7 linked regions of the Homo sapiens genome follow. The protein of the gene in region 3 purifies or fractionates together with the protein of the main gene of each other region. This does not show direct contact. Each region holds a gene or a part of one and is shown on either strand. Other genes may lie near its edges. The genes, in order: CDCA2, ERGIC2, PPP2R5B, MTCL3, NHSL1, ARHGEF2 and KSR1.

Evidence for each region.
Region 1: the proteins of PPP2R5B (region 3) and CDCA2 purify together in Homo sapiens (affinity purification with mass spectrometry; one large-scale study listed by BioGRID and IntAct). This does not show direct contact.
Region 2: the proteins of PPP2R5B (region 3) and ERGIC2 purify together in Homo sapiens (affinity purification with mass spectrometry; one large-scale study listed by BioGRID and IntAct). This does not show direct contact.
Region 4: the proteins of PPP2R5B (region 3) and MTCL3 purify together in Homo sapiens (affinity purification with mass spectrometry; one large-scale study listed by BioGRID and IntAct). This does not show direct contact.
Region 5: the proteins of PPP2R5B (region 3) and NHSL1 purify together in Homo sapiens (affinity purification with mass spectrometry; one large-scale study listed by BioGRID and IntAct). This does not show direct contact.
Region 6: the proteins of PPP2R5B (region 3) and ARHGEF2 purify together in Homo sapiens (co-immunoprecipitation; 2 studies listed by BioGRID and IntAct, with this or other methods). This does not show direct contact.
Region 7: the proteins of PPP2R5B (region 3) and KSR1 purify together in Homo sapiens (co-immunoprecipitation; one study listed by IntAct). This does not show direct contact.

The regions. Positions count from the first base shown.
Region 1 is NC_000008.11:25,503,871-25,508,681, reverse strand, and holds the end of CDCA2 (cell division cycle-associated protein 2), read right to left. Parts: intron 2,173-4,811; coding exon 944-2,172; 3' UTR 771-943; downstream 1-770. UniProt on the Homo sapiens protein: Regulator of chromosome structure during mitosis required for condensin-depleted chromosomes to retain their compact architecture through anaphase.
Region 2 is NC_000012.12:29,339,657-29,343,448, forward strand, and holds part of ERGIC2 (endoplasmic reticulum-Golgi intermediate compartment protein 2), read right to left. Parts: intron 3,627-3,792; coding exon 3,464-3,626; intron 2,161-3,463; coding exon 2,078-2,160; intron 1,563-2,077; coding exon 1,500-1,562; 3' UTR 1-1,499. UniProt on the Homo sapiens protein: Possible role in transport between endoplasmic reticulum and Golgi.
Region 3 is NC_000011.10:64,923,218-64,927,808, forward strand, and holds the start of PPP2R5B (serine/threonine-protein phosphatase 2A 56 kDa regulatory subunit beta isoform), read left to right. Parts: upstream 1-1,471; 5' UTR 1,472-1,811; exon of another isoform or gene 1,812-2,253; 5' UTR 2,254-2,517; coding exon 2,518-2,716; intron 2,717-3,494; coding exon 3,495-3,691; intron 3,692-4,584; coding exon 4,585-4,591. UniProt on the Homo sapiens protein: As the regulatory component of the serine/threonine-protein phosphatase 2A (PP2A) holoenzyme, modulates substrate specificity, subcellular localization, and responsiveness to phosphorylation.
Region 4 is NC_000006.12:127,516,223-127,520,904, reverse strand, and holds the start of MTCL3 (microtubule cross-linking factor 3 precursor), read left to right. Parts: upstream 1-1,569; 5' UTR 1,570-2,326; intron 2,327-4,202; 5' UTR 4,203-4,290; coding exon 4,291-4,682.
Region 5 is NC_000006.12:138,426,021-138,430,152, forward strand, and holds part of NHSL1 (NHS-like protein 1), read right to left. Parts: intron 3,824-4,132; coding exon 3,691-3,823; intron 1-3,690.
Region 6 is NC_000001.11:155,968,425-155,972,556, forward strand, and holds part of ARHGEF2 (rho guanine nucleotide exchange factor 2), read right to left. Parts: intron 877-4,132; coding exon 732-876; intron 1-731. UniProt on the Homo sapiens protein: Activates Rho-GTPases by promoting the exchange of GDP for GTP.
Region 7 is NC_000017.11:27,462,702-27,466,833, reverse strand, and holds part of KSR1 (kinase suppressor of Ras 1), read right to left. Parts: intron 1-4,132.

The sequences.
Region 1 (4,811 bases), on a different chromosome or scaffold from region 3:
TTTAATGGAAAACCATGAATTAAGTCCCAAACTGCCTGTGACTAATTAGAATAATCTGAGAGCCCAGTCTTTAACTGAGCTATATTTTCACCAAAAATAAAAAATAAAAAATAAAAAATTCCTCCCCCCAACACACAACAAAATATAAAGGAATCTTGTTTAAAGGAATGAATAGTTTCACATCAGAGTTATTTCTAAATTATATATTCATTTATAATGATGAATTTATAAGATTGTGGTTACTGAAATAATTTTCTGAAATTTCTTGTTTAGGATTTAAACTATTAAAATAAAAATCTCATTTGAGACAGATAAAACAAGTCATCAAGTCTTCTCTTAAATTTAACCAAAAGGAAAACAAGTTTTATAATTTCAACTTTTGTTAGTTAAAATTTATAGCCAGGTTTTTTTTTTCTAAAGAAAAATACATATCTTACCCGCTTTAAGTCTTCAAGTTTATATTTCCTTCAATTTTCATAAAGTTCCATTAATTCTATCAATTTATCTTTTGTGGGGAAAAAAAAGAAAAACAAACAAACAAAAAAACAAACCTCTTATCCAGATAAAATCAGCCAATTCTAAAAGATGCTTCTAACAACAGAGTCTAAGACTTCAGTGGTAAATATGTACTTAAAAATATATATGCTAAAAAAAAGTCTAAAAATTGAGAGATGTCTTCTTGTGCCTAAAAATAACCTTTTTAGCAAAGTAGTAATAAAGCATTTACTCTCTGGCGGAAGAAGAATATATTTAATAGAATGTTTTCTATCTGAATGATGAAGAAACTTATTTATTTCTACATAAAAGTAGGTTCAACTCAAATGAGTTTATTTATTAGGAACTTTTGAAACACTGAGGTTGAACAGAGAATGGGAACTAGACAGATCATTTCAGCATAGATGGTTACTTTCCCTCTTGCCACAGACTCTGCAGGAAATGTCAATTACTGCTTTCTTTCTCCATTATGTTCAATCCTTTCCAAGGCAGTCAGAGAGCTCTCTCCCTTCCCATTAAGAGAGGATCTTCTCCGGTAGCCTTTGAACTGGGAAGTGGCTTTAGTATTTGCAAGTGTAGATATACAAAAGCTCTTCCTCCTCTTACCAGGTTCATCGGAAGAACCAGCAGCAGGGCCCTGGCTGTTTTCTGGATCTGAGACGGGAGGTGCCATCTGCGGTTTTTGTCTGGAGGACACAGTTTCTTTTATGGGAGACATACTTTCAAATCCACTGCTGTCAAATGTACATATTGTTCTTCTTTTGGCTTTTTGGGAAGTGGAAGGAAGTGGAAGTGAAATCCATACAAGACCTTCGTTTTCTAAATCCTTCTGTAGCCTCGTGCTACGTCGCACTTTGGTTTCACTATTTCTCCTCTGAAAGGTTTGCTCAATGGCATCAGACAAATCTTTAAACAGTTCAGAATTTTCTAAACTAATTTCTACAGAGCTGCCCACACTGGAGGATGGTGTGTGATTTCCATTTTTTTCCAAATGTAAACTTCGACCATCAGAATAACACATGGAACGTCTTCTATCTTTCCTGTCTCTGCAACTCACAACACTGCTACTTTCCATGGGTTTTCTTCCCAAATCCTCACTCTGGCTTTTAGATTCTTTCGTATTTTCAATTAAGACATCTCCTAAACAATGACAGTCTTTTTGTGAATTAGGCATTAAACGATTGCATTGCAGTTTTCCTTCTGCAGCTCCTAAGAAGTCATCCTTTCTTTCACACTTTATGTTTAAATCTGGTGAAATTTTAAAGAACTGACAAAGGTTTTCTGCATTTTGACCACCAGCAGAAAATTCTTGACCCTGCTGCAGGGTCAGAGCAGGTTTGGGACTATCTGATGCCACACGTTCTTCAGTTACAGAAGCACAAGAAACAGGACTGTCAGTTCCAGCTTTTGGTTCATTTTCACTTTCTGACTTATTTTTTGCTTTTGGAATATTTTTATTTTCATTAATGTTCATTATATTTGTATTTGGATCTTCATCAGAAGTAGCATTGCCAAGCGATGAGGAACTTTTTATATAAGAGCAGAATTCAGAGACATCATATTTATCATAGCCTTGATGCATATGCAAATCTGGGTCATGACGCAAAAGATCCTTTCTTTTCACTGGATTTTTAGGAGTCTTCACTTCTTCCAGTTTGCCATTTGAACTGAAATAACCTATGGGCATGTAAATAGGTTTAAATCTAATTAAAAAGTAACAATGGGAATGAACTTTACATTTATTAAATAATCAGGTGACCTGTTTTGTTTTTGTGTTTTAAGCATTCACAAGACCCACAAATGTTACACTGTGCTTGCCCTTCTGTCATCCTCCTCCTCCTCTTTTAGTTCTCCAACGATCCACAGGTTAAGAAAATAGGTATTCAACGCATGAATTAATAAAGCATATAACCTCAAACCATGAAAATGAGAACAGCATCTGAAACAGCTTCCTCCATTCTAACACCCTTCCCGTGCTACAAGGTCCATGAGTATGAGGCAGTGACATTTCCCATTTCCCTGAAAATGAATGACTGCAAATGGGCAACATTATGCTTCTGAAACTTTCTACCAATGTATCCTCCGAAACAGGGGAGGGAAAATTTGGAATTCTGGGGTATTTGAGGACTTATGAGCTAAAACAGCATGCCTGAAGACACTCAGGTCTCATGCCCTTTGTTAAAAATTACTATAAAGTGCACTGTACTCCGAAACAGAACCAGGTTTGTTTCAATATTATAAAAATCGACCCTTAATTCCTCAGCCTTTGACTAAATATCCTCCAGGAAGACACGTGTGGGTAGGCTTTCATGTATTTCTGGCACATCAGAGGTGGAAAAACCATCATCAGATTGGTAAGTAACACAGCCCACATGAGTTCAGGCTTTATGAGTTCTAAATCTTAGAACTAACTATTAGATGCAATCTTTTTTGATACCTCAGATGATATTTTTAAGTGGCCAGTCAAATGAATAAAGTGTTTTAAATAAAATAAAAACTAAAAAAAGTATAAAACATAAGTTGAGCCAAAAGTCTAAAAAAACAATGTTTCCATTTAAAAATATATCCATGATTAAGGTACTTAAAATCATGTCACTTAAAGCTAGAGATTAAACAGGTCAGTGCCCACTCAGTGCCAACCAATGTTAGTTGGGCTCTTTAGACAGCTTTAAAAATTGATATTTATGGCCGAGCACAGTGGCTCACGCCTGTAATCCCAGCACTTTGGGAGGCCGAGGCAGGTGGATTACCTGAGGTCAGGAGTTTGAGACCAGCCTGGCCAACATGGTGAAACCCCGTCTCTACTAAAAATACAAAATTAGCCAGGCATGGTGGCGCGTGCTTGTAGTCCCAGCTACCTGGGAGGCTGAAGCAGGAGAATTGCTGGTACCCAGGAGGTGGAGGTTGCAGTGAGCCAAGATTGAGCCACTGCACTCCAGGCTGGGCGACAGAGTGAGACTCCATCTCAAAAAACAAACAAACAAACAAAAAGATATGTATTTCGCATAAAATCCAACATACTAGAGAAGGAAGGTAAAGAAGATATAGGGAGAGAGGAAAGGAAAAAGAGAAAGAGATAGAGAAGATAAAGGAAGCAAGGAGCTGAATTGCTTTAAACCCATGTAGCAGGTGATACCACTGGTTACAGACAAAAAATGCTTTAGGTATTTTAAAAAATAAATTCTCTAATACGATACAACATGGAAAATTTTACTACAGTCACTGTTTAATCATCTTTTGAAAAACTGTTAAGAACTAGAGATGTAATGAAAATAAGACTTAGTTTCCACTCTCAAGGAGACTGAAGTTTTAGGGAGCAGGGGAACATAGAAAATAGATCATCATAAAACTAGGTGATGGAAGTATGTTGCAGAGTATTCCTGGAAAAACAGACAATACAGCAAAATCTTGGAAGATAAGCAACATTAGGTCAGATTAAAGGTAGAGTGGTGGATGCCCTGTCACAACACAGCCTGTGAGAAAGCATGGCAGGAGAAGAGTGTGAGCCAGGGCGTATGCGACAGAGGGGTGGCTGTTTATTTAAACTCCTGTGCTATCCTAATGTTAAGCAGGACGCAGAAGCCAGGAGTCAATGGTGGCATGTACCTCATTCATCCTCAAGTCTATTATTAATCTTGTATGGTATACCGCAAATAGGAGGTAGGCTATAAATATCTGATGATTGACAAAGGTAGCCATTTGAAAAATGATTCTATACAAATCAACACACCAAATGGACACACATTATCATTTTCAGGCAAGACAGCGTGGCTCTTGCCTGTAATATCAGTAGTTTGGGAGGCTGAGGCAGGAAGATTGTTTGAGCCCAAGAGTTTGAGACCAGCCTGGGCAACTCAGGGACACCCATCTCTACTAAAAATTAAAAAAAAAAAAAAAAATCATTATTATTTTCAGCAAGATTCAGTCCATTTAAAATTTGGGCATTAGAAACCAGAAACAATTCCAGTCCATTTTTTATCTACCCCATATATCAACTGACTTGATAATAAAATAACTTTCAAGGTAATCAAGCTCAATTTATATGTATTATTTTTAGAAAACAGTAGTGCCAACTCTAACAAAACATCATTGTCCTTAACTCATATAAGGTATACATATTACTGAATCATCACCTCATTGACTTTTTTTGTTCCTTTTTTTTTTAAGAGATGGGGTCTTGCTATGTTGCCCAGGCTGGCCTCAAACTCCTGAACTCAAGCAATCCTTCCGCCTTAGGCTCCCAAATGGTTGGGATCACAGGCAGGTGCCCCAGCTCTCGTTCACTTTCAACGATGGACTACACCACCAAATGGAAT
Region 2 (3,792 bases), on a different chromosome or scaffold from region 3:
TTCTGCAAAACGTCATTCTGCATAAACTTTACTGCAAAACAGACCCATCACTATTTCTCCTTCTCTCCATTATATTGTTTATCCTGTTTTCATAAATTTATCTTTAAAAAAATCCATTTGAAAAACTGTTACTTGTGATATCCTGTTTTCTAAAACCACTATTTTAAATCTAGTTTTTCAGTCTTGTTATTTACCTGGAATTTTGTTTCCCCATTTCCTTAAATGATTTAAACTTTGAGGATTGGCTGCTGATTCTTCTACTGCCATTCAGTACTACAAAAGGAAAACTGATATTGGTACACATATTCCAAATACAGCTTTTAATAGTACCTGTGTGATAGCTCCCTCTCACTGTTTTTAATCTTTTATAATGTGAAGATTTAGAACCAATCCTTAAATAGTAAGAAAGTTAGAACACAATCTAATACAGAATCAATCATATTCAGGACACCCTGAATGCAAATACTTCATAATACAGTTTTATAGTTTAATGGACAATGTTTAACATGGCACCTCTCAAATCTGATATATCTTGTGGTGCTTACAATTTGCCTTACACTTTCATTTAAAGTTACCCTGTTCTCCACTCACCACATGTATAAAATATCCTATTTTTTCTCTTAATGTTTTACAAACCGGTAATTTTCACTATCAGTAGCGGATCTTTTTATAACTCACCCTATGTTGCCCAAAATACACCAATAATATAATGATTAGATTAAAAAACTTGGCATCTTTTTTAAAAAAATGTGCTTTCTTTTCCGTGTATAAGATTCTACTATACCATTTGTGAATGACACCCTAGTTACATAACACCTACATATCTGCCCCTGTGAGAATTTACCTTAGTCTTCTAAGACTCTATCTTCAACAGTTAGATAAGTCAATAACCAGAGTTCAAAGAAAAGTAGTTACTTTTTAAGACCAAATTATTGGATAACTGGTCTTGTCAATATGGCTTAACATTAATATGGCTATAACATAGGGACTAGCCCGTTTTTTTTTTTTATTAACAATGTGACCTGATCACAATTCTTTAAAGTCTAGACTAGTTTTCCGTATGTTTTCCACATTTTATTCTGACATCATATCTTTTAAAAACAAAAGGATGCGAACATTTGCACTTCTCAATGTTTTTTTTTTTCCCATAGATGTAGTTTCACTTATTTCCTTCAGGCTTTTTATCAGCAAGAAGCAATGTCTGATTTTGATACCACCCATTTGCTATGAAAATATAAGAAGGCGTCATCTTCAAAGCAACACTCCAGTTGGGCTTCTTCATCGTTTAGCTGCATGATTTCTTCTACGACATTTGTAACAGACACAACGTATATAGAATTTCAGTTTGGGTTTTTTTATCCTTTTTTTTCTTTTTTAAAATAAGTATGTTTTCTGCTTATTTGTGTTTTCTTTTCTTTGAATATATTGCACAATATTTTATTATTAAAAAAAGGTTTTATGTCTCAGGCAAAAAGTTTTTCTCCTTCAATCGGGAGGTGTTAATGTGTATTATTTTCTAAAAGAGGTAAGTGGTTGTCTGTGTGGCCATCCTCAAAAGGAACCTAAGGAGAAAAGGAGGGAAAAAAAGACCAAAGAATTAGTTTTATTCCTTATACTCTTTCCTCTAAACACAAGGTTTTATTTTGGGCAATCCTTTCTAGTAACCAAAAGCTACTATTTCTCTCTCTCTCTCCCCCTATTTCTCTATCTCTCTATCTCTATCTTTTTTGAGGCAGGGTCTGCTCTGTCACCCAGGCTGGAGTGCAGTGGTACGTACGATCATAGCTCACTACAACCTCAACTTCCTGGGCTCAAGTGATCCTCCCACTGTGCCCTCCCAAGTAGCTGGGACTACAGGCTTGCACCACCTTGCCTAGCTAATTTTTTCTATCTTTTGTAGAAATGGGGCTCTCACTATGTTGCCTTGACTGGTCTCAAACTCCTGGGCTCAAGCGATCCTCCCGCCTTAGCCTCCCAAAGTCTTGGGATTACAGGTGTGAGCCACCATGACTGGCTCATAGACTTAACAATGATTCTAAGATTTAGAGATCAGCACCATGTATACTACACCACTTACAGAATTGACAGGTTTATAGGATCCAAGTCTGAAACGACAGCAAATTATTTCAACTATAAATTTTCCAATTCCATGTAACATGCCTGTAATAAACAATAAGTTTATGCTTTTAATTATTTCCTAAACTGTTATTTAAGAATAAATAACTATAATGGAATAGATTACGGAAGAAAACAAAGCAGTTTGCATTATTCACTTCCATGGTTAAAAATAATCAAGAAAGATTTTAAAACAAATGGATTTCTTTTCAAAGTCACAAGGCCACATAATTCACGATCTCAGCACAATCTTTTTTTTTTTGAGACGTCTCACTCTGTTGCCCAGGCTGGAGTGCAGTGGTGCAATCTTGGCTCACTGCAACCTCCACCTCCCAGCTCAAGCAATTCTTGTGCTTCAGCCTCCCAATTAGCTGGGATTACAGGCATGTACCACCATGCCCGGCTAATTTTTTATATTTTCAGTAGAGACGGGGTTTAGCCATGTTGGCCAGGCTGATCTGGAACTTCTGGCCTCAAGTTGATCCGCCAGCCTTGGCCTCCCAAAGTGTTGGGATTATAGGCATGAGCCACTGCACCGGGCCTAAACACAATCTTTTCAAGGTTTTCCCACACCAATACAATTTTGGAAAATAAATGATGTCAACAACACAAATTTAAATAGATTGAAATGAAGCACTAACAAAGAATTTCGAAAGAAAAGCTATTCATTCATTTAAAAATATGATTCTAAGTATAATAAACTACCCAGCTCCATCTAATACTGAATAAGGACTGAAGATGAAAATAGAATTGTTTCCTTTTTCTCTATTGTACTTAACTCCCAATTTTCATCATTACAATTCGACAAATAATCTTAGCGAATTCCAGGATCTCAGGACAAAAATCATAAACATGTTACTGATTACAAATCTAGTTTCATGTATTGCATAATTCAAAGTACTATAACATATGATTTTACATACTGTACAGTTAAAAATGTCTTAAATGCCTTCTAGGCATTTTCATATTTAATCCTATAGCACACTTGCAAATTAGGTATTATTATTGCTATTTTTACTGATTAGAAAACCTCAGAAAAGGTAGGTGATCTATTCCAAGCTACCACCAAGTAAATGACAGAACTTACATTCAATTCTACTTCAATCTGATGTTAACACCCAGGATCTTTCCAACTCACCATTATATAATCTACCTTACATCATTGAATACAATGAAATTAGTTATGTTTACTGGTTAGTCAATATAATTTTGGAGTTTTGTAATTAAAGCAAAAGCTATTTAAACACCGAAACATGAAAATCTGTATACTTCTTGCCCCTTTGAGAAGAAGCAACTTAAGTATAAGCAACACTTTCAGAAATTAGACAAAAAGGAAATGGTTGTTAACCTGTTGTTGAAAAGATTCCTCCAACAATACCACAGAGTCTTACAAAAAACTGCCAGAATGGCATGTGCTCCTCAGTAACTGTCACCATAAGAGAACTGAGATCATATTTCATAAATATCCCAGAGACTCCATGGCTGCCTGCAGCATGGTTAATGATACGTTCCTAAAAGGGAGGCAAAAGGAAGGGGAGAAATAGGAGGAAGAGAGAAACAGAATTCATGTCATCTGGTTACTTACATACATTCAATATTAAGCCCTGAAGCCCTACTGTAAAAGAAGGACATCCACATTTCCTTATGAACTGTCCTACTAGACTAAGCTCTTCAGAG
Region 3 (4,591 bases):
TGTAGCCAGCTGGGAGGTGGAAGCCTGGCCCCTGGCCCCAACTTTTGATGACACGCTGTGTGACACTGGGCAAGGCGCTTCTCCTCTCTAGGCCTTGGGGTCCTTGCCTGGCTGCAGAGGCTCTGTGGGCCTGCCCTCCCTCAGCTTGTTCAGGGATGCAGAAGAGCCTGGGAGGTGGGCAAGGAGGGAGATCATGGATTCCCATTGGACAGACAGGGACACCAAGGGCCGGATGGGCAAGGCCTGCCGGAGGTTCCTGAGCAAGCAGAGCACTTGCTGGGTCTCCAGTGCCGGAGTCCTGGACCCCAGCCTGGTGAACTGCGGCCCTCGGTGCAGGCCTCTGCCTTCTGTTGCTTTGGTAGGCGGACACCTCTTGCGCACCCAGGCTTCCTCTGCAACCGGGAGGATGGCTGGGTGGTTCCGCTGGAGCACTGAGTGGTCACCAAGACCCAAAGCAAGATGGGGCAGACTCTGAAAAGGCCCCTAGTCCCCTCCCCGACCTCATTATCTGGTCTCATCACCCTTTCCTACTGCTCACCATGGACCAGCTGCTCATCCAGGCAACATTTCAGGGTGGAGATTTCACAGCAGTGTAGCGGGATGGAGTTCAGGGCTATAAAGAGTGTTGGGGTCCAGGATCCTAGGACGGGGGCCCAGGACTGCAGGCTGGGAACTTTTGGTTAGCATGCCAAACTCCTGGACTCCCACCTGTGCCTTGCATGCCAGCAGCAGGATTTTGAGCAAGAGACACTGACCCACCCAGCACATCTTAGGGTCCAGGGGGGCTGAAAGGTCCATCCGGGAAGGCCAGGCTGCCTGGGATGAGGTGGCAGCTCAAGGAGAAAACCTCCTCCTCTCGGGCTTTGCCACTCCAAGACTGGCCCTTTAAACTGGAGACCATGATGTCACCATAGACAGCAAGGGACGGGAGGGGGACTGCAGGCCTGAGGATGGACTGCATCTCCCAGCAGGCTTGGGTGCACCACACCCCTCCCAGCAAGCACTGACTCATCGCAGACTTTTAACTAGTCCAGTGCTGGTTTCCAAGGGGTTTCTGAAGTGTCTGGTGGTTCTGGGGTAAGGGTGAGGTTCCTGGGGGGATGGCCTAGGGCATAGAAGGCCCAGGCCAAATCTGTGGGCCTAGCGTAGCTTGCTGCGACTCCTTCCTGTCAGTGTCCTGGCATCACCCTACTTTCCTGGTGCAAACTCCTAAGCCCTCCTCTTTCCCTATGCAGCCTCCCTTCTAGAATCCAGGCTTCCCGCCCCCGGCTAGAGCCCATCCCACTCTGCTCTCTGGCTTCAAAAGCTTCGGCCTTCACCCCCGAGTCTGCCCTCAGGGGTGTCCCCTTTGGTCTGGCAGCTCACTTTAAACGGCGCGGGGACTACATCTCCCAGCGGCCCCGGGCCTTCCTGACGCAGCCCCCCCTTTCAGCCCGCGGGGAGGTGCGGGCCGGGTGGGGGGAGGTGACTTGATGTCATCCTGAGCAGCTGGGCGGCGGGTGCCGGTGCGCACGGAGCCGAGCCGGGGCTCCCGTTGCGCTGCACCGCGTTGGGTCGGAGTCCCAGGACTTCAGCGGAGATCCGCGCGCTGCGACGGCCGGTGCAGAGCCCGCCGAGCGCCCAGTCCCGGCCCGGGGCTGAGTTGGGGGCATGCTCTAGCCGCCCCCCCGGAGCCCGGGAGAGAACCCAGGAGCGCCGCCGCCCAGCCCCAGCGCCCCGAGCGGAACCGCTGCGAAGGGGCCCTGAACGGCCGTCGCCCTCCCTACGGGCAGCCCCCGGGGGTTGGCGACCGAAGTCTAGGTTTTCGAGAAGTGAGTGTCCCCCACCCCATGAGGTTTGGGGGGCCAGGAAGGAGGAGCTGAGGTGGGGGAGGGTGCCAGGTTCTAGGAGCGGGGTGGCATCGGGACAGCACCTCCAGTCTTGGGGTTGTCCCAAGTGGCCGGGATTAGTGGAGCAGCGATGCGTTCCATTCTGAAAGGGGCAGGGATGACGATCGGGGCTCCATTCTGAGTCGGGGCTGGCTTGGGGGATAGGCCCTATTCTGGGAGGGGTTGTTTTGGAGGCTTTCTGTCTGAGAGAAGGGAGGGACATGTCCAGGATGGGAGGGGGCTGCACCCCTATTTTAGGGTCTGGGCAAGGATAGGAGGGAAAAGACCTGGGCACTCCACGCAGCCTCCCGGCTCTCCTGAGGAACTGATGGGCTTTCTCTGTCTCTTTCTTGCTGATCTTTCTGCCTGACTTCGTTTTCAAAAGAGCCAGGGTGGGAACCCTAACTGGACTCTTCGGGACCCCCAGGAAGGATCTGAGGCCTGAGCCATCCTCCTTTCTACCCTGTCTGCCCCCCAGGACTGGGCAGTTGCAGGAGGCCCTGGGGGGGGGCCCAGGACTGTGGTTGTGCCCCCCCCCCAAAGGCCGGACAGGATGGGACCAAGTTAGTCTGTCCAGTCTCACCCAGCACCTCCCAGGCCCAGAGAGAACCCCCGGGGCTCTGAAAGCTTGCCCTGCCGCCTGACCGCCATGGAGACGAAGCTGCCCCCTGCAAGCACCCCCACTAGCCCCTCCTCCCCCGGGCTGTCGCCTGTGCCCCCACCCGACAAGGTGGACGGCTTCTCCCGCCGTTCCCTCCGCAGAGCCCGGCCCCGCCGCTCCCACAGCTCCTCTCAGTTCCGCTATCAGAGCAACCAGCAAGAGCTCACACCGCTGCCCCTGCTCAAAGGTGAGCTGGCTGCTGGCCACTGGGGGAACCGAACCCCCGAGGGGACCAGCAGGGCCATGGGGAGGGGTGGGAGGCAGCGGGCAGCTGCCAAGAGAGAGAGTTTGGATACCCCTCCAGGCTAGGTTCTCCGCCATCAGAACTGACCCCAGCCCTCCAGCCCTCTCTGCTGACACATGGCCTGACTGGCCTGTCATCCTTAGAGGTGGGACATCCGAAGGTGGTGCCACCCTAGGGGCAGACCAAGGCCAAGGGTGGGGCCCATAGCCTGGGTTCCAGGGGGCCACTATCAGCCCAGCCAGCTGCCAGATCCCTGGAGCAGGCGCTTGGCAGGGTTCCCTGGGATCACCACATAGGTCCCTTCCCCAGCCTTGGGCCATAGGGCCAGACTGGCCAAGCCTGAGGACACCGTAGAGATCCTTGGCCCTGAACCCCTCCCCATTTCTGGCCCTTAGAACAGGGTGCCACCTGAGAGGGAGGCAGCAGCTGTTTGGGGCACCTGTGGAAAGCTGCTGCATCCAGGATTTGTGATCTTGCTTTAAAACTCAGGCCATCATACTCTCTGAGCCTGGATTAGGAGGAAGAAAAGCAACCCTCAACCCCCAGGAATGGAGGAAGGGACAGTAGTTGTTTGCTGTCTGCAAGGAGCAGGAGATGGCACAAGAGCATGGGGCCTGGGGGCAGCAGAGGCAGCCGTGGAGATTAGGAGGGTCTGCCCCACCCACAGCTGGGGCAGCTGGGGGAGCTGGGGCCCAGGCCCAGGATGCCCTCTCCTCCCCAGATGTGCCGGCTTCCGAGCTGCACGAGCTGCTGAGCCGGAAGCTGGCCCAGTGTGGGGTGATGTTTGACTTCTTGGACTGTGTGGCCGACCTCAAGGGGAAGGAGGTGAAGCGGGCAGCCCTCAACGAGCTGGTGGAGTGTGTGGGGAGCACCCGGGGTGTCCTCATCGAGCCCGTCTACCCAGACATCATCCGCATGGTGAGCACCTGCCACCCAGGCTCCGAGGGCCGGCCGAGAGGGCGTGTGAGCCCCGTTTCCTGTCCGCAGGACCCCTGCGTGGAGAATAACCCTGTACTCATCGGCTTGGCCTCAGTCCACGTCTTCCTTCCCCCCGACCTGCTGCTGCCCAACACCCACTGAATGCCTCCGGGCCTGCCCCACGTCCACACCTTTGCTTATGCTTGCCTGAGACCTGGAGTGCCCTGCCCCACACCCCATACCATCCATGGCCTGGCTCAGGTGCCGCCTCTGCCAAGAAGCCGCTGTCAATAACCAAGCTGGAAATCTCCCTTTTCCTGCCCGTAGACCTCACAGCTTCTAGCCTTGTTCTCCCCACTGGATTGCACCTGCCTAGAAGGCAGGGATGTGTCCCATTCACCCCTGGGTTCCCAGCCCCTGGCCCAGGGCTTGCACGAACTAGGCGTTCAGGTGATGATTGCCCAAGGAATGAACTGCTTGCTGGGGCAGATGCTGAAATCAACCCATTAGAACTTTGAATGAGGGCCGGGAGCAGCAGCTCTCATCTGTAATCCCAGCACTTTGGGCCAAGGCGAGAGGATCACTTGAGGCAAGGGGTTCAAGACCAGCCTGACAGTGAGACCGCATCACTACAAAAATTTAAAAATTTGCCGGGCATAGTGGTGTGCTACTGTAGTCCAGCTACTCAGAAGGCTGAGGTGGGAGGATCGCTTGAGCCTGCCTGGGAGGTTGAGGTTGCAGTGAGTCGAGATTGTACCACTGCGCTCCAGCTTGGGCAACAGAGCGAGACCCTGTCTTGGGAAAGAAAAAAAAAAAAAAAGCTTTGAATGAGAGACTCCCTGGCTTCTGTCTTCAAGGGCTTTTCCTTAATGAACCCCAACTCTGCCACTCAGATCTCAG
Region 4 (4,682 bases), on a different chromosome or scaffold from region 3:
TATACTTATTCTGTATTATTACAGTTTTCAACCTTGAAATTGCATAATACTAAATTATAAAATGAAACATTTAGACACATTGTTTGATTTAAGGATACATAATAATCCATTCTTAATATTTATTTTACTTTTTAAAGTTACTATTTGCACGAAATAAATGATACCGCTTTCGGAAAAAAAATCAAAACATAGATGCCTGAGCAGAGTAAAAATTCTTAGAGAAGCAGGACTATGCATATTCTGTGTCTTTAGACTGTGTTTACAGTATCAATATTTTATTGGTAAAGATTGAGCTGAAAAATATTTGTATCTACTTTATCCATTTTGATTGGATGAGACATGTGCATCTTGATATTTCTTGAGGATATTACAGCTCAAGTTTGGGTACATAATAAGAAATTGCCTAATATAAATTCAAACCAACTTGTGATTACATTTTCACTTGCTTTTTTTTTTTTCCTTTATTTTTGGTATGCTAGTCGAGGTGTGGGCTTTTTATTATAAATGTCACAGATGTCACTTTTCCTGTTCCCAAAGGTATTTGAAAGAAAATAAGGAAATTATCTCAGTTTTCACCAGTATGCTTGAGTGTCCCCAGCACAGGGACAATTTCTTGATTCAGCTTTGCATCCCAGTACCTTGGACAGTGCCAGGCTCAAAATTGGCTTTTAATACCTATTTTGGAACATGAATGATTTTATCGTGATATCATATTTGTTTTATGTGTCTCTAAAGATAAGAATAACCAGAGCTTGAGCATGTTTTTATTTTGCTGTAATAATTGCTTTTATGCAAACTACTCCTAAATTGTTTTTATTTCACTTTTAATGCAAGATCAACACTTGGAAAATTGAATCTCTTGAGCCAAAATTCATGTTGGCACAAAAAGCTATTATTATTTCAAGATATCTTCTTCCTTTTACTTACAAAATCACCATATAAATGTAAGACAAATTAAATTTTAAAATGCCCTTTCAAAAGCAGTACTTACTTTTATTCTCATACTCAAGCTCACAAAGGAATTCTTAGAGGTAGAAGGGAGGCTCCCATGCCCCCCGCCCACCACTGAAAGAAGAAACTGAAAAGAAAAAGAGAAAATTCCACTTAATTTTTAAAAATATTATTACTGTGAAACAGTATGGGTTAGTGTAAATTGTAAAGACATGTATATTCTGAACTCCTCTTTTTAAATGAATTCCCTTTTAGGCTGATATAATGTATTCTTCCTGGTTTCTGTTATTGTTCGCATGCACTACTATAAAGATTATGGATCCCAGCAATTACTCATTTTCACGGTAGAAACCGGCACTCAGTAGAAAACAGGAAAACGTACTGAAGGCAAACCGTTCTGTAAAGGATCTCTGTGGGCCGATATTTATTTCGGTTTGCACTAAATTAGTCGTGGCTTCGCAAGAACCCTTTGTCTGTGGGACGGTGGGTCCCATCATGGCAACCATTATCTATTCGTGGAAACGACATCTGATGACTCCGCCCGGGCTGGGGGTGGGGAGGGAGCACCGCGTGTAGAGCTCGACTGAGAATTAAAGTGAGTGAACAAAGAGAACTCCCAGCAGCCGCCAGCCAGCTGCATCAGGAGATGTTAGTCACGCCCGGAAGGCTGTTCTAGTCCGCCTCCTTGGAAAAGAAGCTCAAGTAAATAATTGATGGAGAATGACCGAACCCAGGACAAAGCTTTGCAGGAAACCAGTGCATCCGTGTTCGAGCGGTTTTGGGATCCTCTGCCAAGTACGGGATAAGAGAATAGAGCAAGGAGTTTGAGCGCTGCTGCCAATCTTCCATCTCGGGCGTGGCTCTGGCCTTTTTGTCTCTTTATCCCGCCACTCCCCACCCCCGTCCCCCGTCCCCCTCCCCGCCTTCTTCTCTTTCCTCTTGAAAGTAACCTCTCTTTGGTTACTTCTACCCTATCGTCCCTTGCAATCCCGCCTTCTCTCCTGCCCAGTTCGGTGAGGTCAGCTCATGAACATCTCTGCACTTCCTGGGGAGCGTCTGGCCCAGCTTGGTACCTCGCGTGTTAGCCTGCTGAGAGCTGCAGCTCCAGCCCAGCCGCGGACCGCCGGGAAGTCACCCGCTCTGGGGGCAGCTGAATCTTGACGTTACCGCCATTGTTTGGAGAAATCGAGTGGGTGTGGAACTGCGGCGAGCGAGCCCAAAGTCATGCTCAGCCGGAAAGTCGCATACAATAATATGAAGTTGAACTTTCCTCGGCGCAGAAAGGCACAATAATAAACCCTGAGATCCCCGGAATATCAGAAGGAAAGTGCTGTTGATTTGTTCAGCTACTTGGAAACCTCGCCTCTGCTGAGAAGTGAGCAAGTTCTGGATTTCTAAAGGGTTGGGGATGAATGATGGGGTGGGTTAGCAGGCGGATAAAACTTGAGATTAAAAGTGTTGGTCTAAGCCGTGCAGGGGTTGGTTGGGTGATAATTTTCACCGGGAAAGCCTTGAAGAGATGCAGCATCTTGTCACTTTGTGGGAACCACGTGACAGCAGCCGGATACCTTTGATTGTGGAGCCCAGTTACTGGAACACAAGCTTTCGCCTGGGTTAATGCTGTCTGAGGGCTGAGTTTAAACATTGGCTTCTCAGCTCTGGAATTATTCTGCCTGATTAAAAACAAAAATAAGTTTGCATTGGCAATATAAGTTAGTTAGATAGCCCATGTTAGTGCCACCCATGATGATAAACTAGGCCAGACATTCTAGTAGTATCGCGACTGGGAGAGAAGATGTAGAAAACAAGTTGGTGGGCAATTTTCCCCCGATGTCTTCTTTGTTCACCTTTATATTTCAAAGTGAGTTGGAAGGAGATGCCAGAAACAGAAAGGGAGGTGGATTAGGAACCCTTCGGTAATATTTCTTTATAAAATGAGGAATTACTGCATGCTAAGTTGTGATGCTAACAATAGATGTTAACAAGAATAATGCAAGTAAAATAACTGGCAGTAAAGTAATCTGCTCTCTGTATAGAACAAATATTTTTAAAGGAGAAATTTATGCCTAGTCATGCCCCTTTCAGTGCTTTAGACAGAAATAATTTTAAGGAAAAGGCAACTAATTGACTAGCTGCCTGGATCCCTAGGGAGAGGAACCCATGAGGCAGTAACTTGCTATTTTTCAGATTAAAGAAGCTAGTGACGGATTTATCTTGGAAATACACATACTGGAAATTGATCTTACCACCATGAGGGAAGATGCACCAGCCTTCTGGGTTCTGTCTCAGAATTGCTATATAGGAGGAAATGGGCACTTTAAAAAGTACAACTTTTGCCTATGATATGCGATGTAAGAAGATGGCTAAGAATGAAAATATTTTCTATCTAGCAATTACACTTAAAACTAAAGTGATTCATAAGACTACAAAACTGGGTAAGCATAGGAAAATTCATCACCAGAAACTTAGGAAACTGCAGAACTGACCACAACTTTTCCAAATGTATTTTAAAAATTATTTCCCAAAAGGGAAAAAATACGTTTTTGGGTTGCTAATAACTAACCCATATAGACAATTCTTAATGCTATTATTTTCTTGAAACTGAGATTGATTTAAAGGCATTCATTATTTATATTTTCTTTTAGTTCTATTATAAAGGAAGTTGGGTGCATTTTCCCAAAAACAACATTAAGGGTTGGAGCTGCCTGGGGAAAGTGTCATTTATCCGTAGAAAATATTCTCTAGGAACCCTACATCATAACCCTTTTCCTCTAATTGAACTTGGGAATACTAATTAAATGAAAACTTTCTCCAGTAAACTAGGCTTTACATATGGATTTGATGGTAAGGAAAGCCAAAGTTGTAAAAGCAGAGTTGACAACTCTAATATATGGATATCTTTTCTTTCTGAAGCTTCTTTTCCACTTTATCCTCTTTTCTTTTATATCTCCCTTTCCATCAATTCCTGTCTGACTCTGTATCTCACCCTTTCCAAAGCCTGCTACCATGAGAATGTAAGGTTCAGCTGCTTTCAGATCCGTCATTTTGCTGAGGTGGAGTGAGATGGAGACAGCGCCACCCTGGGCAAAATGAGAATTGACAGCCCTCCATCCTATTCCTAAAGACAGCCCTGCATCCTATTCCTAAAGTCAAAGCTTCTATTAAGCGCCATCCAAATGGAGCAATATCACCCTTTGCTCTGCAAAAATTCAGACATGTTGTCTTCTTCTCTCCTTTTGTTTCTGTCCCAGCTTAGGAAGGAAGGTTGGCGGCGGTGAAGAGGGAAGAGGATGATCTAGTAATGGGCTCTTCCAAATCGCATCTGGTAGGTTCATAGCCATGAGTCAGCCACCAATCGGGGGCGCTGCCCCTGCCACAGCAGCAGCTTCTCCCGCCGCTGCAGCCACTGAGGCTCGTCTGCACCCGGAGGGCAGCAGCAGAAAGCAGCAGCGAGCTCAGTCACCCGCTAGACCGAGGGACAGTTCGCTGCGACAGACAATCGCGGCCACCCGGTCCCCAGTGGGGGCCGGCACTAAACTCAATTCTGTTCGGCAGCAGCAGCTGCAGCAGCAGCAACAGCAGGGTAACAAGACCGGGAGCCGCACGGGGCCGCCCGCCAGCATCCGAGGAGGCGGAGGTGGGGCCGAGAAGGCGACGCCCCTGGCGCCCAAAGGGGCCGCTCCGGGAGCTGTCCAGCCTGTGGCTGGTGCTGAAGCGGCCCCCGCCGCGAC
Region 5 (4,132 bases), on a different chromosome or scaffold from region 3:
TCAATGTGCTTTCCATTGCCAGTGACAAAGAGATGATAAAGCCAGTGAGCCAAGTGGCCCCTTGCTGGTCTCTTCATGACAACAACTCAGTCTGTGTCTCTTAGCTAAGTGCAGGAGAACTTGCTTTAAGGAAACTCAACACAGTTAATAGAATAAAGACGTGGGTATATCTCTTTTCCTGCTATAAAATTGTAGAATATGCAGCAGGGAAAGGTTGAGAGTATGATATCTGTACACACAGATTAAGAGTTGAAACCAGACTCTTCCCACCTCTCGCTGTGTGACCTGGGACAAATTACCCATGCATGCCATGCCTCCTCACTTATAAGATACCAACCTCACAGGTTTGTGAAGATTAAGTGAAATAAAGAAGCTAGCTACATAACTCCCACTGCTAAAGCTTCCTTGTTCTGTCACCTTGGACAAGTTAACATTTCTGACTGTGTATTTTTCCTATCACCAAAAGGGGAATAACAGTATATAGGTCACAGTTTGTCAGTACTCATGAATGCAGTGATAGCCATAATTGGTCAGGCATAGAGCAGGTGCTTAACAAACCTTTGAATGTCACATAGAAAATGGATTTAGTTTTTACGTGGCTTACACAGCAAGACAGAGGGCAGCATGGGCCCATGCTGGCTGCCCTGGGCTTGGTGTTCCTGGCGTCATCTCCATTCTTCTGGTCAAAAAGATGCCACTAAAGCAGAGGCTGGGAAATGGTAAGGACCCAATACAGGGTCTGAAGGGTGGCCAGAGTGGACAGGGCACCAGACTCTTTGGGACTGCAGAACATGGCCTACCATACAGGTTTCATGGTCCCACTCAGTAGTTAACAAGAGCAGTCTGCCCTGATAAGAGTTAGGACCGGCTGACAAAACTACAGACATCCTAACATCTCGAAACTGTAGAGCTAGAAAAGACGTTAGAAATGGTCTAGTCCAACCACTTTGGGTTTCAGAAAAGGTAACTGAGAAAAGGTAACTTGTTAGTATGACAACTAGGACTTGAGCTTATAGCACATGGCCTCACCACTTACATGGTCTACTCCCCAAAGCAGCTCTGCTCATTTCATTCTTTTAGGTATTGGCTGGTGACTTAATTTGTAATTTAGATTTTAAACGGTGAGAGTATGCTGAGATCCATTAAACAAGTCACAACTAAACTTGAGTAAAACTATGACCTTTAATTGTAGACATAGAATTAAGAAAGAAGATGGGGTGACCAGCCTGAGCAACATGGTGAAACCATGTCTGTACTACAAATACGAAAATTAGCCGGGCATGGTGGCACACGCCTATAATCCCAGCTACTTGGGATGCTGAGGCAGGAGAATCATTCGAATCTGGGAGGCAGAGGTTGCAGTGATCCAAGATCGCGCCACTGCACTCCAGCCTGGGTGACAGAGTGAGTGAGACTCTGTATCAAAAAGAAAAAAAAAAAAAGGAAGAAAGATGGGATTTTATGAAAGCACTGTCATCTCTCAAGAGCAGGTGCCCACTAAAATAATTAAATCTAAATGTACAAATTCTTTGCATATACATACACAACACACACACACGAATATGTATTTTTAATGAAGAGAGCTATAAAAAGTGCTTAAACAGTTAACACTGATTTTAAAACTAATTACTTCAATAAATATAAAAACTTCACACCTCAACTGGTGTTCTACATTTTCCATCTGGCTTTAAATCTGAAGCGAATTAATTTGCATTATAAAATTTGGAAGCTGTGTTTCAACTTAGATATTCTTTATTTTAAATTATGAGCTTAAGCGCTGAAGGACATAAAAATAAAGCCCTAAAAAAGCACAGACAGTAGATGGATTTTTACTATGTCTGCTAATTTATTCTCAACGCTACAACAGAAATTAGCATATGTCCTCACTCTCTCTCTGCAATCCATTCCTAAGGCCTATTTGGCTTTGACTTCTCTCATACGTGCACTGAGTAACACCAACTGACCGATTTCTACATCTGCAGTCGATGTAACGTCCTAGTAAGAGAAACAACACATTTTTCGATGCCTTAAGAAGGTTGCCAAAATATAGAAGAGGCCTTTGGCATATTTTTGGGAAAAAATATGCAGTAATTTGGACCCACAACAGTTGGGTTTCCTCACTGGAACCAAGTATCGAGTACACAGAACAACCAGGCTACGCAAATCTTCTCTGTGGATGGCTATTATAAATAGACAGATATGCCTGTATATTTAGCAACCCAGTGCATTCCATACTAAATGAAATACTCTGAGTCTTGGAAGAATCTTCTAATGGTTAAATACCAGTTGGTTTCATTTAATTCAGGAAATATTTATTGAGTGCTTCTTATGTGTCTAGCGTGGTTAAGAGTTAGAAACATCTATGGGAACTTCTAGAATTGCCACTGAAGTTTCAAAGGATGCATCATTTATCATTTCTCTGTTTTGAGAAATAATTGGACAACCAGCTACCTTTTCACTTCTAATGAGACTGAAGAAACCAGTCCATGTTAAAAGGGGCAGTCTTTAGGATCTATTATACCAACACTAGAGGAGCGACGTAAAGAGCGTAATTCTTGACAAGAACATTAATTCACCGGCTTCGTTCCCCCCACACCAAGTTAGATGTTAATGTGTTGCATGAAGAGTTTCAGGTAGGTACAGCACTATGTTTTTCATCTTATGCAATAGTCTTTTCAGGGAGAGTCCAAGAATTGGGAAAGCAGTGCTGACATAAGATCATTCACACACAGAATCAAATGATTCTACAGGATGCTTTGTTTCAGGAGGTTAAAAAAAAAGAAAGGATCTTCATTCAGGGCAAAATAAGGCCTTGGCAGCATAAGGACATTCATTAGAGTTACCTGGAAATACCGTGGTAGAGAAGTCTAGAAGGAAGCAAAAGGTTTATACAGCATTACGGCTTAACGTAGTTGCACATATACAGTCATCAGCTTTTACGATGACACTGTGTGGGAGTAGTCAGCTGTTTCCAATCAGAAAAGTGATGCAGTAAGTAAAACTTCAGTGCTAAATCATATTTACTCTTAAAGGTGACCACATATAAAAAGTGTAACAGTTCAGGCCATTACTTTGAAAATTTTACCCTTTTTGTTTGTTTTTAAACCCAACGATTTCTGATGCCAGTAGATGGCACTAGTGGTATATTAACAAGCATAAGTCATTCTTTTGCTCCCGCTTAAAGGGCCGTACTCTTTTATAGAAACACTTAAGCAGCCAAAGAAATTGCTCTGTATAACTGTGGTTTTTCTGTAAAATGAAAAAAATTAGAATAAACTAAAACATCTTTAGGAAGAGAGTCCCATGGAGCTAGTCTGTGCATCCTAAGTCCACAGAACATAGCATTCCTCCTCCTGACTGCACTGTCAGTCACTTTAATCCGACTCTTGCTAATATACTCTGTCTTATGACTGCCACACTGCGCTCCTTGCCAGGAAGAGCAGCGCCTACCAGAACGTATCACATTGAGCCACTGTCCCCAATGTCATAAAAATCAGTGAGACAAAGTAAAACAGAAATTGGAGCCAGAGGAAATAAAACTGTAGAAACCCACTAAAAAATCAACAGTAAAGTTAAGGAGTTATGATTGGGTGACAGAAGAAACCTCAAGGAAGAAAAGTAAATTGAGGTGCTGCTTGGAAAGAAGGAATTACACAGTAGATTAAAGTCAGAGGAAGGAGTTTGAAATACCTGTGAATAGCTGCAAAAAGGTCTTCTGTGGTCCTGGGTCGACTGGGGGTCATTACCTCATCATTCCCGTCTTCCTTGAGGAAGTCACAGGCCTCTGAGGATGAACCGGCTGCGTTGGTCTCCGGCACCCCAGCTACAGAAGAGCAGGCAGGCATACAAGACGCACAAGTGACTGGAATTTCAGTCCTCAGCCAAGCTTCTAAATATGCTGCTTCCCTGCCATTCCCGACAATGTGAGAACCACAGGGAGATGCCGTGGGTCTGTAGTTTGATAGTTTACAAAGAAGGGAGGAAATGACACTAGCCTGAGAGCCAGAGCTCATTCTTTGTTAAAGTATGGAACGCCCATGGCATCTCTCTTAAATTTTGTTGCAACGTTTCTTTGCGCGGCTCTTCGGAAGGGAGGTGTTACCCATTGCTATTTAATACCCAGCCTGCTGCA
Region 6 (4,132 bases), on a different chromosome or scaffold from region 3:
ATAACTTCAGGAGGAATTGAGGGAGAGGGGGCAGCAGGAGCCCTCTGTGTACTGGGGAAGGAAAGAATTCCTGGCTTATACTCCCTAAAGACAGGACTACACTCAGATGTGGATGAAGGGCAGGAATTCTAACCCCTGCCCCTCAACACACACATCCCTGCTACATTCCCTCTTTCTCACTAGAAATTTGAGATGAAGGGTCCTAATCACATCTTCTGCTTGAAACAGCAGAGATTTCAGGCTCCACCCATAGTCAATAGAAAGAAAGGGGCAAGGGGACTGTGAAGTCCTGAATGCCCAGCTCTGCGCAGGAAGACAGGCAGAGCCAGCTGCAAGGCTGGCAGCTTTCCACCCAGTTCCTCTGTCACCCCCCACCCCACCCCCTCCACACATACAACATTCCTGCTCCTTCTCCAATCAGTTCCCCTAACCCTTAGCAGCTGTTCGGGGAGCAAGGGGGGTGCCTGGTGGATGACAGCTGCAAGAGGAGCCAGCACAGCCTCCCCTCCCCCACATTCCCAGATAGTCCGGCTTATGCCATATTCCAACAGCCACCACCCCTCAGAGTGAGGACAGGGAGCAAGGGATCAAGCAACTGGCCCTGGCATTTGGGCCCAGCTGGGGATCAGAGAGAAGAGTGACCCTCATGGATCCAGGCAGAAAAAACAGATGAAAAGATCAGGGTCAGTGGGCACCGAGTCTGGGTGACTCTCAGGGTCCAAACAACTTACTTGGGCAGATGAGGGCTTCCTTGGCTGTGATGCTCTTGTTACAGGCATAGCACATGGTCATGCCTGAAACTGAAATGGTGGTGAAGAGGTGCCCATTGGTATAGCGGGCATCCTTGGCTTCCTTCATCTTCTCCTTTTCCCGGGTCTGTGGAAGGGATGAGAGGGAGAGGAAGTGAGGCTGGAAAATGCCAGGGTGCCTGGAGTCCAGAGAGACAGGCTGGGGGCAGAGGCAAGGAAAAAATGCCAGCCTGAGGATGCTGGAAAGACACCAGTTCCTAAAGCAGAGCCTGCAACTGGGTGTCAGAGGCAGCTGTCCGGGAGTGACCAGGCCAGGCTCTGGGGCAGCCAGCCCGGATGGGTTCTGGGTCCCTGACCTACCTGGCCCCTACGGCTGGGCTGCCTCCTGTTGCCACTCATCTCCCTGGCTCTAGGTCTCTGCGTCCTCACTCCACCTTCCCAGCCCTAGCTCTGCTCACCCCCGAGCTGCTGTACTCTCTTCTCTGTGCTAGGGGGAAGATGCGCAGAGAGGAGGGGAGAGCAGGCGAAGCGGAGGGTGCCAGCTCACCAGCGCTTTCCAATCTATGGGAGTTAGCTCCTCTTATAACCATGACAACCAGTGTTGGATCTGCTGTCTCTGTGGCAGTCACAGTGGGGGGGGCAGGAGATCCCCTTATTAGATTGGCTGAAGGGGGCAGAATGCCTCCCCTGCCACCCCCAACCCAGGGGTCAGGATCCCAGACCTCTAACTCTTTTCACCAACCCTCAGCCACGGCACACAGGGCCTGTCTGGGAGGCAGCATGTCCCCTACTAACCTTGAGGCAAAGGCAGCTAGCTGCCTTTGGGTCACTCTTCCACTCTGGGATCTTTAAGTAAGGAAGCTCAGCCAGCCATCTTGGTTGCTTCCAGCGGAAAATCTCTCCTGCAGTCTAACTTTTATCCCTCTCATACTACTTTCCAGAGTTAAAACCTAGGAGAGTTTCCTCTATTGCTCCTTACCCAACTGGTCTCTCCCATCCTAGGAAGTCCTTTCTGACATCTACCCTCCATCCTTCAGTGTTGATCTCCGCAGATGGCGCACACCTTCCTCGGAGCCTCTGAGCCGCATTTTCCATCTCTGCTGTCTCCCATTTCCCCCAGTGCCCCTGCCTCTGCAAGTCAAGTCATTCTCCCTGACCTCCAATCTGTCCCTCTTCAAGCCCCTGTGATTCCCAAAAAGCCTGAGAAGGTGAGAAGAGGGGGATATCACTCTTCCCACTATTCTAGGACCTTCCTTAGTTGTGACTCTGATCTCTGGATTTTCCCTCCGCTCTTGGAGCAGGACTAGAAGCTGAGAAGACCACTCCCTCCAAGGTTTCCCAGGCTCTCAGAAATCAAAAATCAGGATCCAGATGGCTGAGGGTAGAAGCCCCAAGTCAGAGGACCTGGACTGGGGACAGAGGATTACAGTTCAGCGGGAAGCACTCAGCCCGGACTCTAGGAGACCAGTACTGACTCAGCCGAGGCCACGAGGCCACGCCAGCAGCTGAGAGGTGGAGGAGGGGAAGAGATGCACGGGCCTGGTGCTTGGGGCAGAAAATGGTAGAAAGAAAGGGGAAGTGTGGAGGGGCTGAGTCAACAGTGCAGGGACAGAGGGCATGGGGCTGCAGTGCCTGGGCCCAAGATCCTTCTCTTTCCTGCCTCTCTTCCCAAGCTCCAGGTTTGCCTGATGATGTCCAGAGCCCAGAGGTCTTGGGGTCAATCCCTTCTCCCCTCATGCATCCTCCCCATCCCCAATCATCCATTTTTCGCATCCTCCTCCTGTCTCCTGCTCTCTCTATGTCCTCCCTTCTCTTCTCAGGGTCTCCCTCCTAGGCTCCTCCCGCTCTGCCTTCCCTTTCTCAGCCTTGCTTCTCCGCCACTGTTCTCCTCTCCCGCCCACAGCCTCTCCTCCCCTCCTCCTCACGCAGGCCAACTGCTCCTCTACCTAGGCTTATTCAGGAAGCTGAGCTGCCTCTAGCCTCTAACTCAAACCTCTAAAATGTTCTGGCCTCCTTTTTTCTATTCTGGCACCTACCTACCCGGACCACTAGAAAATGCTCCCTTTGGTCTAACCTCCACCTATCTTGCACCAAATTATACCTCTTTAGAAGTTCAAATTCAGGCTGGGTGCAGTGGCTCACACCTGCAATCCCAGCACTTTGGGAGGTCGAGGCGGGTGGATTACCTGAGGTCAGGAGTTCGAGACCAGCCTGACCAACATGGTGAAACCCCATCTCTACTAAAAATACAAAAAATTAGCTGGGCGTAGTGGCAGGCACCTGTAATCCCAGCTACTTGGGAGGCTGAGGCAGGAGAATTGCTTGAACCGGGGAGGTTGGAGGTTGTGGTGGGTTGAGATTGGGCCACTGCACTCCAGCCTGGGCCACAGAGTGAGACTATGTCTCAAAAAAAAAAAAAGAAGTTCAAATTCACCTTTGAATAATAACCTCACAGGACCTCAAACACCAAGTCCAAAAATCTCTTCCCACTGCCATATACTCTCCCTTTTCTCCTCCTCTCCTGCCCTCCCAGCCTTCTATATAACTCAAACCAAAAGTTTGAGCATGTATTACATTTGAATTAAAAGCAAGAGGCCGGTGAGGTGGCTCACACCTGTAATCCCAGCACTTTGCGGGGCTGAGGTGGGAGGATCGCTTGAGGCCAGGAGTTTGAGAACAACCTGAGCAACACAGCGAGACCCATCTCTATAAAAAAAAAAAATATATACATATATATATATACACACATAAGTAAAAGCAAGCAAGCTGAAAATAGTATTAAAAAAAACAACATGGCTGGACCAGGGTCACTCCAGAATGGGCAGTGCTGCAGCTCTGCCCCAGTGCTGCTACGAGTACTCTCTTCCACACCTGACCTCTGTCCTTTGCCCTCCACCCTCCCCCTGTGGCATCCACAAACACTCATCTGTCTGACCAGCTCAGATGGAGTGGCAAAGGGAGGGAGAAGACTGGGGCAGCCAGAGAACAGGGTCTCTAGTGGCCCTTCCTCTCTCTGGCATCAATGCTCCACAGACAGCCCTGGTACTCTGGGCCCTGCCTCCTCCACCTCCCAACACTCACCCTCTCTCGAAGTGACCCCTGCTCTAGGTGGGCCAGCAGCGGGCAGCAGCCACAGCAGCAGCACATCCCAGCATGGGCACTGCCCAGCAGCAAGCGACCCTGGCACTGCCTAGTGCTATTGTCCCGGAGGTTGCCTGTGCCCGCCCCAGGGCTCAGGCTTCTGAGGATGGAAGGACATAGGGCCTGCTTACCAGGGGTGCCTGCTCCAGAGGTGGAGTGAGTGGGCTTGTTTGGTTCTTTGTCCTACTCTTTTCCAGGTATTCTTAAGATAATCACATTGGTCTCCCATTTACCCACGCCCA
Region 7 (4,132 bases), on a different chromosome or scaffold from region 3:
GCCTCGACTCCAGCGCACCTAGAGTGGCCCCAGCCGGCCCAGGCCTCCGTTGGCCAAGAGGCCAGAAAGAGCTCCTCCTTTCAAAAAGCCACCACGAGAAACAGGAAGCTGCTTCCTTTCCTTTCCATTCAGAGCCAGCATTTCCTTTTTTATTTTGAAAAGCATTCTTCATCTGTAGCCCAGCCCTCTCCCCCAAACCCCCTGCAGCCCAAGCTCAAATGCACCCACAGCCATCTGCATTTCTCTTGGATTGTTTTCTGCCCATCAGGGGGATCATGAGGTTCCTGGTAGACACTGAGCAGACCATGCCCTTAACACCAACTAAATGCACCCAGGGCCAGGAGGAGGCAGGAAGTGCAAACTCCAGGCAGGCAGGCAGGCAGGCGGGCACACCTCTCTCGGCAAGTTTCCTCTTCTTGTTAGAAGGATTCAGTGATACATGTATTTAAGTGCTAATGTGATGCCCAGGAGACACCCTATTTCCCTTTGTAAAAAAGGCAATTTCTCATGGCTGGATAAGTCTACAGGGATACCAGCCTCTCTTCAACCACCCAATTTTATTTGGAAACTCAAACAGCACCTCAGTTTCATAAAAACCTAAAACTTAAACACAACACTTGGTTGTAAGTGAGCCAACAGTTTCTTGTCTCTTTCTCTGCTCAAGGCTTAAGGCCATGTCTCCCCAACTACGTTCAGTGGAAGAAAAGATCCCCTGGACAAATAAGTTTGAGAACTGTTGTTGCAGTACTTCTCAGAACCTTTAAAACACAAATCCTCATCCGCAGGGATCTTCAGGAGGGAGATGGCTGATGCAGCACAACTTTCTTCACAGGAGCATCTTGCAGAATACAGTGAGATACAGAAAGGCTGCACTGAGCCTTTTTAAGGGCCCAGGCCTTGGTGGGAGTGGGGTAGGAGCTCTCCAGATAGCTCCTAATGAGTAGGAACATTCAGGTGGCTTTTTTTTTTCCTTATTGGCAAAACTGTGTGTGCACCATGAATGAAGCTGGTCTCCCTTATCCATATCAAAACTAAACCCAAATTAATTGGATAAATTGGGACTCAACCCCTCAAGGAGCCATGCGGAAGAAAGCCCCACCACACTTTAAAGTAGCTTACCACATCATATTTGCGGAAAGCAAAACGCTTATGACCAGTATGCTGCTAATACAAATCTATAGATAATGCTGTATGAAAAATTATTTTTCCCAATCATAGCTGGCATAGTCCACATTTTGCATTACACTTTCCCCCCTTTTTTAAAAATTTTAAACACGGGTCTTTATCTCTTCTTTTTTTAAATTTTAATTTAATTATACAAGACAGAGTCTCAGTATGTCGCCCAGGCTGGTCTGGAACTCCTGAGCTCAAGCGATACGTCCGTCTCTGCCTCCCAAAGTGCTGGGATTATAGGCCTAAGACACTGTGCCCGGCCTTAAACACAAATCTTAATTCATTCTTACAATTATCCGGAGATTAGAAAAATGGAAGGGGAAGAAAAATGGCAAGCAGGTAGGCTGACTTCAGCTTCATTATTTGGAAAGACAGTTTGCTCAGTTAAAACACACTACTGCCCACCAAGGCCAAGACAACAGAAAAATACAGACTTACATAAATAGATTTTATATGTGACAGCAGTTTGAATGGAGACTTTTTCAATGCAAATGACAAACAGCTGTGCCTGGGAATAAATGACAACAAATTTTTTTATCTCAACAGCTGTCCTGAGAGCACGTCTCTACATCTCTACCTGCATTCTGGAATCAGGGAGAAAGCCAAAACGGACAAGACACTAGATCAGCCGTGTCCAACCCTTTGACTACAAGGACTTTTCCGCCTATCTGTGGTGGTGGGTATCATGAAAATTATGCACAAACCTTTTTTTTTTTTTTTAAGCTCATCAGCTATTGTTAGCATTAGTGTATTTTATCTGTGGCCCAGGAGCATTCTTCTTCCAATGTGGCCCTGAGAAGCCAAAAGACTGGACACCTGTGCACTAGATTAAAAGGCTACTCCTTCTGGAAGCAATTGTAAAGAATTTTTACATTATCTTGACATGAAAACCAATGGATAGTGGCACAGAATGCAAAATCTGCAAGGATTTTTCTTGCTGGTTTTTTTTTTTTTTGAGTCAAGTTCTTGCTCTGTGGCCCAGGCTGGAGTACACTGGTGAGATCACAGCTCAGTGCAGGCTCAAGTGCTCCTCCAGCCTCAGCCACTGTAGTAGCTGGGACAACAGGTGTGCACAACCACCCCTGGCTAATATTTTATTTTTTGTAGAGACAGGGTCTCACTATGTTGTTCACATTGGTCTCAAACTCCTTGACTCAAGGGATCCAGGATAGGATTACAGGTGTGAGCCACCACACCTGGCCATGCGCATGAACTTTTAAGACAAACACAAGGCCCCATAAAAGTTAAGGATTTCCCACCTAATTTCCAGGGGATCTTTTGGTGCAAGGATGAGAAGCCCTTAAAAGTAAACAGACAACTCCAAAGATTCAAGACAGTTCATTCGGGCTGAGCCAGCCCACTGAGCAGACTGACCTTCAAAAAAGGTCCACCCGTGACATACCCCAGATGGCGCTCCAAGAATCTCTCCAGTCCTCAGGGCCCCTAAGGCACTGGGACAGAGCTAGGAAAGCAAACCCATTTGCTTCTTCCTGCAGGAAACCCCTTGAGGTCAACACCCCACAATCAGAGGAGGATGGAGTGGCTCACCCTCAGTCAACAGGCCAGACTCAAGGTGGTATAATGTCTTAATCAAGGGTGTGGGCCTCCAGGTCTGACTCCCAACTCAGTGCTCCTTTAATAACCACCCTTTGTTAATTCTGCTTAACAGGGGTTCCTGGCAAGTCAGTTCTCCCTCAGGCCTTCAGTTTCCTCACCTGCAAGATGAGAGGGCTGGACCACATGGAAATTCCAAGACCCTTTGTAGCCCTAGGAACCCACAACTCTACTAAATCATCCCCAAAGCCAGGCACCCCAAATAGCACTGTGATCAGTATTTGTAGTTAGGGATGCAACCAAGAATGCAGTTAAAGTGACTTTCATGAGCCTCAAGTGATCAAGACCTCACCATATGATTATGTACTACCAAAGCTGATCAGTCTCTGGACAGGGAGACCTGAAATCCAGCCCCTCCCTCCGCTATCTTGGAGCAAGGAAAAGGCCTTCTTCTAATTGGTCAGCCCAGGGGGCCCCCCTTTGCTGCAGGTAACCACAAAAACTAGAAGCCACAATGCCTGACACATAGCCCAGAACCTCAGACACAAGCAACCACAAAACTAGAAGCCATAGTTCCTGACACTTATCCCAGAATCTCAGCCAGAGGACCATGTCCAGCCTCTTTTTTTTTTTTTTTTTCTCTGTCATCCAGGCTGGAGTGCAATGATGCAATCTCAGGTCACTGCAACCTCCACCTCAGCCTCCTGAGTAGCTAGAACTACAGGAGCGTGCCACCATGCATGGCTAATTTTCTATTTCTTGTAGAGACGGGGTTTACCATGTTGCCCAGGCTGGTTTCGAACTCCTAGACTCAAGCTATCCACCAGCCTCAGCCTCTCAAGGTGCTGGGATTACAGGCATGAGCCACCGCACCCAGGCCCAGCCTCCTTTTAAACTCTTGGCCGTCAGTGTGATTACAGATGCAGTGGCAAATGGATAAATGTATGAAGGCTGCCATTCCTGCTTAGGAGAGGGGGAGTTATGATGCCATAAAGATATTAAAGACGAGGACAGATATTAAATGTATTCATATACTTTGACCCAGCAAATCTCACTTGTAGGAAGATACTCGTTGCAGCACCATTTATAAAAGCAAGACTTGGAAACAGCCTGAATGGCCCACACAGGGAAACCGGTTAGATGAATTTGTGGTATGACCACACAATGCAGCCACTAATAGTGCTGATGCATATGTATATGTGCTGATACAGACAGAAGACATTTACAAGGCAATGCACATGGTATGTGCCACAAATATACACATGTACATTTATATGCAAATGCAGGAAGAATATACAACAAAATGTGCACTGGAATTAACTCTGAGAGGTGGCATTATGGGTGATTTTCACTGTTGTACATCTAGTACTTTCTTTTTTATAGTGAACATATATCATTATGTATT